Regions from separate parts of the Homo sapiens genome. Here region 1 is reported to be linked to region 2. Evidence: microRNA targets listed by miRTarBase, many of them from high-throughput screens and not tested one by one. Region 2 holds a microRNA gene; the other region holds the end of a gene's coding sequence.
What was found. Region 2 holds the annotated microRNA hsa-miR-570-3p (CGAAAACAGCAAUUACCUUUGC, at 1,373-1,394, opposite strand). A microRNA usually pairs through its seed, bases 2 to 8, with sites in the 3' UTR of a target mRNA and lowers its output. Matches are read on the target gene's strand: a 7mer-m8 pairs with bases 2 to 8, a 7mer-A1 pairs with bases 2 to 7 and ends in A, and an 8mer does both.

Region 1: the mRNA of OTUD1 is a reported target of hsa-miR-570-3p. Seed matches in the 3' UTR shown: 7mer-m8 at 3,696-3,702.

The regions. Positions count from the first base shown.
Region 1 is chr10:23,440,576-23,444,750 of GRCh38, reverse strand. OTUD1 (OTU deubiquitinase 1) reads right to left here. Exons shown (of 1, transcript NM_001145373.3): 1 at 2,374-4,175. The coding sequence ends at 3,848. Among named protein-coding and RNA genes, the nearest start is that of OTUD1, 3.6 kb to the right of the region's middle.
Region 2 is chr3:195,696,423-195,700,853 of GRCh38, reverse strand. It overlaps MIR570 (microRNA 570), which reads right to left and starts at 1,453; the gene lies at 1,357-1,453. The region is part of intron 2 of MIR570HG (MIR570 host gene); the gene reads right to left. LOC124909477 (a long non-coding RNA gene) reads right to left here and starts at 4,309. Exons shown (of 2, transcript XR_007096227.1): 1 at 4,265-4,309; 2 at 1,784-1,824.

The sequences.
Region 1 (4,175 bases), not on the chromosome of region 2:
GCATGGTGGCAGGCACCTGTAATCCCAGCTACTCGGGAGGCTGAGGCAGGAGAACTGCTTGAACCCGGGAGGTGGAGGTTGCACTGAGCCAAGACCACACAATTGCACTCCAGGTTGGGCGACAAAGCAAGACTCTGTCTAAAAAAAAAAAAAGAAAAAAGCAATTTACTGAGCACTCGCTCTGCTAGGTACTTGGGTTTGAACCCAGGGATTCAACAGGGAATGTGCCTATTGAGCTTAGTAAATTTGGGAAATCAAACTGAATTAAATGTCATCTAGTTTCTCAGTGCCTCTTTGAGATAGACATTCTAGGGATGTACAAAAAAATGACATCTGAACTTAGGATGTAACAAATAACTATTTAATGTGAACATGCTACATACTTGAATTTATCCAGTACATTTACCTACATATCAAATTATCAAACGTCCAAAGGATTACAATCTATTTTTCTTCCCTAATGCCTTTCTTCCACATGAGCACTAAATGTCATGGTAAAGTGCTAATGATTCTCAAAATGCAAAACTTGGAAAAAAATTGTATAACTTTTTTTTTAGGAAAAGCACATAAGATAAACTTGAACAAAGTAATGAAATTATCTCCAGATTTTCTTTTTCAAGGCTGAGTGTGTGATTCACACCTGTAATCCCAGCACTTTGGGAGGCTGAGGTGGGAGGATTGCCTGAGGCCAGGAGTTCAAGACCAGCCTGGGCAACACAGGGCGAACCCCCGCCCCACCGACCTCTATGAATAATAAAAAATTAGCTGAGCATGGTGGTACATGCTTATAGTCCCAGCTACTCAGCAGCCAAGGTGAGAGGCTAACTTGAGCCCAGGAGGTAGAGGCTGCAGTAAGCCATGATTGTGCCACTGCACTCCAGCCTGGGGGACACGACAACACCCTGTCTCAAAAATAATAAACAAAATGTTAAAATTAAATTTAAAAACAGGACTGGGCAGGGTGACTTATGCCTGTAATCCCACCACCTTGGGAGGCTGAGGCAGGAGGATCACTTAAGCTCAGGAATTTAAGACCAGCCTAGGCAACATAGTGAGACTACATCTCTACTAAAAAATTTTTTTAAAAATTAGCTGGGTGTGATGCTGGACGACCGTTGTAGCCCCAGTTACTTAGGAGGCTGAGGTATTCGGGAGAATCACTTGAGCTCTGAGGTTGAGGCTGCAGTGAGCCATGACTGTGCCATTGCACTCTAGCCTAGGTGACAGAGGGAGACCCTGTCTCAATAAAAACGTAAGAAAAAAGAAAAGAAATCAGGACTTGGAATCCTAATTTGAAAATGAAACAGAACACAGAGTAAGCTACCTAAAACAGTAATAGGCTTACAGAAGGCTTTTTAGGAATTCTTGTGTGTTCTACTCATACTTGTATAAAATTTTAAGCATCTCCAAATGTTATACAGCTCTAAATAAAGTGGAGAAAAGGGGTAGCCAGGTAATTCAAATAATAGAATTTCTTTCTTCCCAAATTACTTACTGAAGCCATGAAGCAAAACTTACCTACACAAAAATCCAGAGATCTGTGATTAGTAAACATTTAAACCGTTGACAAATTCTTTCCTTGATATTCAACGGCATCCTTCCAAGAATGTGGTTAACCAATGAACTCAATCAAGTTCAGTTGTGTCTATGACTGTGATGTCTAAATAACTGAAAAGTAAAATATCCAAAATAGCTGCTTTTCTTATGCATTACACATACCCCAACATTATGCACACAGGTGCACCAACTTAGTCCATTTGTGCTACTGCAACAAAATACCTATAATTTATAAAGAACAGAAATTTGTATTTCTCACAGTCTGTTGGCTGGGAAGCCCAAGATCAAGGTGCTCGCAGGTTCCACATCAGGCGGAGGCCCCTTCCTCACAGATGACACCATCTAGGTGTCCTCCTGTGGCAGAACAACAGAACAGCAAAATGGGCCTAAGCTAGTTGCTTCCAGACCTTTTTATAAAAGGCAACTAATTCATTCATGAAGACAGAGCGCTCATGCCTTAAATCACTTCCCCAAAAGCCCAACCTCTTAATACCACCATAATGGGGACGAACACATGAATTTGGGGTGGTGGGACACATATATTCAAACTATAGCATGCACTTTTCAACATCTTAAAACAGATTCCCGTGGTCTCAAGAGGCCAGACTAGACAAAAATTAGGGCATCTCTTTGGTTACTCTCTAAAACGTTAAACTCTATACTGAGAGTGAGTGGAATACAAAAGTATGACATTTAATTAGACATTCTGCTGGCTGACACAAAACTTGCACTTCCTTTTTCATTAGCCAATAGGTACAGCTATAACTGTAGACAGAAATTATAATTAGAAATAATGAGAGCAATTTCTTGGATTACTCCACTTTTAAATTATATTTTATTCAGACTTATCCTTTGAAATTACTCATGATTAGCCTATCCTCTTCATGTGATAATTTAGGAAACCTCTCTATTGCTGTGGCATCTTTATGGAAAAAAAAAATTGTGTACATGCATACATGCAAGAAAGTTTCCTACAAACATCACAATTTAAAAACCACTCTATCCAAAAAGGCATTGTAAAAGTATAATTTTGCATTTTATTCATTCATTCCATCAGCTGGGAATTGCTCTATTGTACAAATACAGTTTTGTACAAAAAAATCACAAAATGTTACAAAATAAAAAAAGTACAAACTGCATTACTTAATAAATATGACTAAAAGTAGTTAAAGTGGCAATGAGATTGATTTTAAGTTGGAAACATTGTTTGACCCAGCAAACCATACAAGCTCTGTTTACAGACATTTCTACATCAATACAGGGCAATCCTATTTTGCCTTTTGAAAGAATGTAAAGAAATATTAAGACAGTGTTCTCCTGCTATAACTGCCAAGGTTGGCTCCAGACATTTATGCCATTAGTTTATAAATCTCTTAGCTGGATTCAAGAAGTTATATAAAGCAGGAGGCTTATCTTGTCACAGAGTTTTATACCATGTTAACATTCTCTTACAACAACGTGACAAATGTAAATAAAAACAACTGAGAGCACCAGACAATCTACTCTACACATCAACCAGGGTACAGAATAATCATTCTGCCATCAGCAAATATCAGACTTTCATTCAAGTAAGACCTGCTACTATCCCTTAAAAGAGGAAAAACAAAACAAAAACCAAAAAAAAAACACAAAAAAACACCTTCCCACAACCTTCCATTAAGTAATTTTCTTTAAAAGATTCGCCATTTCTAGAAAAATAATGACTTCCAAAACAACAGCTCTGTTTCATCAAAATGGAATGGGCCAAACATCTGGTAACAAGAATGCATCAATATCCATTTGAAATAATTATCTAAGAATTGTGAAATTCAAATTTCAACAACATAAAATAACTACCAAATCACAAACTCTGTTCAAAATAATACATTTCATATAAAGCACTTCTCTGGATTTACGCCTGAAAGCTGTTTGTCAAAATGGAACACGTCATAGATGAAGGTACACCAGTTTTTAAAAATGTTGTGCAAAAATACATTTTTATAGAAAATAGACTACCAGGAATGAACAAATTTACACTGTGAGAAATCAGCTTGCAAATTAAGTAATGCTCACTTTATACAGCAAATTATAAATAGCAGTAAAATCACCCAAAGCTATCATGAAACATCATTTAGGTGCCCAGCAACCTCCAGCTCTGAGAAAACATTCAAAAAGATGATTAAGGCATTACACCTACAGTAAAATCTACTAGCAAGTTTGAAAGTGCTATTACCCTGATTAAAGTTCATGTGATTCTCCAAACACAAGTTATATATGCAATTATTCCCAGGGTGTAAGGTTTTGAGACATTTCAAGAGCATGCATTTTGTTCAATATACATTTTAGACAAGGATATGGCCATAGATTTGGCAAGTTCTTCGTCGCGTTTCCTTTGCACTTGAGTTTGTTTGCACCAGTTGTCGTACTCTGGGTTAGGATAGGAGTGATCAAATACAGCATCATAGTGTCCGTTACTGAGCCAACTGAGCCAAATACTAGGCCTCAGGGAATCCTCTGGGCCCAAATAATGAATCATGGTAGACACCGTGGGACTCTCCAGCCTCCCTCCAGTAGTTAAATGGATATTCACATTCAGCATCTGCCCCATGGCCAGCAACTCCGGGTACCCGGCCCATGCC
Region 2 (4,431 bases):
TTTAAATTCTCACAGCAGTGATTGAGTGGTACAGTTCCTTTGCATCCTTGACAATAGTATTGTTACTATTTTTTATTTTGGTGATTCTTTTTTTTTTTTTTTTTTTTGAGACATAATCTTGCTCTGTCGCCCAGGCTGGAGCGCAGTGGCATGATCTCAGCTTACTGCAACCTCCGTCTCCTGGGTTTAAGCAATTATCTTGCCTCAGCCTCCCAAGGTGCTAGGACTACAGGCGTGTGCCACCACACCTGGCTAATTTTTGTGTTTTCAGCAGAGACAGGGTTTTGCCATGTTGGCCAGGTTGGTCTTGAATTCCTGATCTCATGTGATCTGCCTGCCCCAGCCTCCCAAAGTGTTGGGATTACAGGTGTGAGCCACCATGCCTGGCCTTATTTTGTTGATTCTAACACGTGGTGATATCTCCTGGTTTAAAGAAGCGTTTCCCTAATGGTATCAAACATCTTTTCATGTGCTTATTTGCAATCTGTATATCTTCTCCAGTGAAATGTTGCTTTGTATCTTTTGCTCATGTTCTAATTGCATTCTTTGTTTTGTTACTATTTTAAGACTTTTAAATGTATTCTAGATACTAGTCCTTTGCAAATATAGTCATGCATCGCATAAGGACATTTTGGTCAATGACAAACTGCATATAGGATGCGGTCCCATAAGATTATAATAATGGGCCTGAAAAAATTCCTGTTGCCGAGTGCAATGCTACTCATGTGTCTAGTGATGCTCGTGTAAAGCTACTGTGCTGCCACTTGCATAAAAGCACAGCGCACACCATTCTGTACAGTACACAATACTTGATAATGATAATAAATGTGTTCCTGGATAGCACAGCACACACCATTCTGTACAATACACAATACGTGATAATGATAATAAATGTGTTCCTGGTTTATGTATTTACTATAATATACTATTGATCAGTGTTTTAGAGTGTACTCCTTCTCTCTATAAAAGAATTAAGTGAACTAGCAGGCCCTTTGGGAAGTACTGTAGAAGGCATTGTTACCACAGGCGATGACAGCTCCATGTGTGTTATTGCCCCTGAAGACCTTCCAGAGAGACAAAATGTGGAGGTGGAAGACAGTGATACTGATGACCCTGACCCTGTGTGGATCTAGGCTAACATGTGTTTTTGTGTCTTAGTTTTCAACAAAAAAGTTTAAAAAGTTAAAATACTAAGTTTATAAAGTTAAAAAGTTACAGTAAGCTAAGGCTGACTTATTGAAAAAATGTGCTTATACATGTAATATAGCTAAGCTGGCTTTTGCAAACATAGAGTCCTGTGGATGTTATGCTGACTTCGGCTTGGGGTTTTTCACAGAGAGAAGCATGGCAAGGGGGACTCCATCAGGTTGGTGCAAAGGTAATTGCTGTTTTCGCAATTAAAATAATGGGAAAAACTGCAATTACCTTTGCACCCACCTAATAACTTATCTAGGGGACTCTTTCTCCACCCAAAACCCAGGACACTTGGCCCACAACTACATCACCACCCCAGGGTTCCAGGACACTTGGCCCATGACTACATCACCACCCCAGGGTTCCAGGACACTTGGCCCACAACTACATCACCACCCCAGGGTTCCAGGACACTTGGCCCATGACTACATCACCACCCCAGGGTTCTTTACTATAGTTTTCTTGTTCTTCCTTCAATTACGTGTGACATTCCCAACTCCAAGATTCTTCCAGTCCTTCTCTCCCCCTTCATCTAAAGCAGGCTGTCATGAGTTTCTGTCAGCTGCAATCAAGAGTCATGACTCTTACAGTGGGTAGGATTACTCCCTTTTTTGTTGTCATTAAGGAAACCTGTAAGAGGAAAAACAAACACACTTTATGTGGAGAGACAGGGAAAGTTGTTCTATTCAGTCTGGAATCTAGTCCCTCAGCTGGTGGTCCACCTTCGGATTCACTGGTCTTGGGAGTAAGACGGTGCCTTGTAGTCAAAGAAGTGAGGAATTCTGGTGCCTCCTGAGGGTGGAACTGAGGAGAGGAGACGTGAGAGAGGATGCTGGAAAGGAGGAAGCAGCCAGAATGTGTAGGGCCTTTGTGGCCAGGCCAAGGAGCCTCAGGGAATATCTGAGCGTCTTAAATAGGTCAGAGGGCAATTCTGAAAACAAACTCCTTCTACCTGCTGTGTAGGCAATGAGTTGTCATTGTTAGATAGAGGATAAAATGAACCCAATTAGATTATTGCCATCATTCCAGTGATTGAAGATGTTGATCTGTAATAGGGTAATGGCCATACACTTTCGAGAGGAAAAATGTTCAAATTTAGGGGATAATTAGAAATCTGCACTTACAGCCCTTGGTGACACTTTTCCTATGAGCCAAACGGAGAGGGGGAGAGAGAGAGAAGGTGGACAGTCACCGACATATGAGGCAGTGGAAGAGGAACAGGCATGGATAGGAAGAGAATTGTGGGACACACTGGGTTCGAGATGCCTGTGTGAGACAGTCTCATGAATATGTCCAGTAGTATATTGACCAAGCAAGTCTGTCAGGAGCCTCTGGAAATGAGGTACAGAATTTGATAGTCATCACTATGGAGATGGTAACCTGAGCCGTGAGAGAAGCTAAAATCCCCGGGGAGAGGATGTAGAATGAGAGGAGAAAATGGGCCAGGACAAACACAAGGAATGCTCGGAGGGAGGGGCAAAACCAGAACAGTACAGCGTCCCCAAACCAAGGAAAAGAATGTTGCCAGAAGAGGAGAGTCAGGCTGTTTCAAACTCTGCTAAGAAGTGAAGGATGTTGCATATTGAGTAGAGTCCATTGGGGTTACCAGTCAGGCTGACTCAGGGATCCTCTTTGGCAGAAGTAGTTCCAATGAAGTGGGAGGAGGAAGGGAGGAGCAGAGGCCAAATGAGCGTGAGGAGTGTTTAGGAGTTGACAGAAAGTGTATCCACTTTTTTGAGACGTTTAGCCAGGAAGAGGGAGAGACATGGGGCAGTAGGTGGAGGAGGAGATGAAATTAAGGGAGTGTATGGAGTTTTAAAATGGAAAGCTTGATCCTGTTTAAATGCTGTTTTATGCCCCTACGAGGGCGAGGTTAAACATACAGAATAGAGGCATAACTGATAGAGCCAAGACTCCCACCCAGGAGCGGGTTTCGAGCGGCACCTCTCTAATTCAATCCCAAAGGAAAAGAGGATACATGTGGGTCCAGGTACATGCTGAGGTTTGGTGGCAGGACTTTGAAGGAGGTCCCATCTGATGGCTTCTATTTCTCCTGTGAAATAGGGGAAGCCCTGTCTGCTGGTTGTGATGTGCCGTGACAGTCAGAAATGCGGGGAAAAGGGGACAGGTCTGAAACGGGAGGCGTTAAGAATGGGAAAGTAAAGGCAGGCGCGATGGCTCACGCCTGTAATCCCAGCACTTTGGGAGCTCGAGGCGGGTGGATCACCTGAAGTCGGGCATTTGAGACCAGCCTGGCCAACATGGTGTAACCCCATCTCTACTAAAAATACAAAAATTAGCCAGGCATGGTGGTGTGTGCCTGTAATCCCAGCTACTTGGGAGGCTGAGGCAGGAGAATCGCTTGAACCCAGGAGGTGGAGGGTGCAGTGAGCTGAGATCGCGCCGCTGCACTCCAGACTGGGTGGCAAAGCGAGACTCCAACTCAAAAAAAAAAAAAAAAAAGAATGGGAAAGGGAGAGTGTCTGGGGAAGCAGCGTTGCCTCGGCAAGGCCTGAGACCGGCTGGGGTTAGAGATCAGGACTCCCGCGTGGCCTCGTCTCTGCCTCTGTGCATTTTCCCCCAGCAGGTCAGCAGTGTGAAAGGCGGGGGTTCTAGTAGGTCTCACAGGGAGACAATGCAGGAAGGGGCTGAGAATTGCAAGTGAGAGGTTATTGGTAGGACGGACAATGCAGGAGCTGGATGGACTGCACGGACTGAGCGATCGCCACCGAGAGATATTTGGGGTACCCTGCCCCAGTCCCCAGCCCTCAGCCCCCGACCCACCATGGGAGGTGGGAGCAGCGGGCAGGCCGGTTGGGGGCCAGATACCCAGGCAGTGGGATGTGCAGTGGGAGGGGTCTCCGCCCCTGCCCCGGGTCCCCACTGGCCCCTCCGCCGCCGACCGGCCCCCCCGCGGCATCCCAGAGCCGACCCAGGCCCAACTAGAGGAATGGCTGCAGAGCTGGGATCCTAATGACACAGGACAGTGGTGGAGCGTTAAGAGCTCGGTGGTAAACGTGCACTGAAATACAGTCATGCTGTGCAGAAGCTCTCTAGTTTCATTAGATACCTTTTGTCAATTTTGGCTTTTGTTGCCATTTCTTTTGGTGTTTTAGTCATGAAGTCTTTGCCCATGCTTACGTCCTCAATGGTGTTGCCTAGGTTTTCTTCTAGGATTTTTCTGGTTTTAGGTCTCACGTTTAAATCTTTAATGCATCTTGAGTTAATTTTTGTATA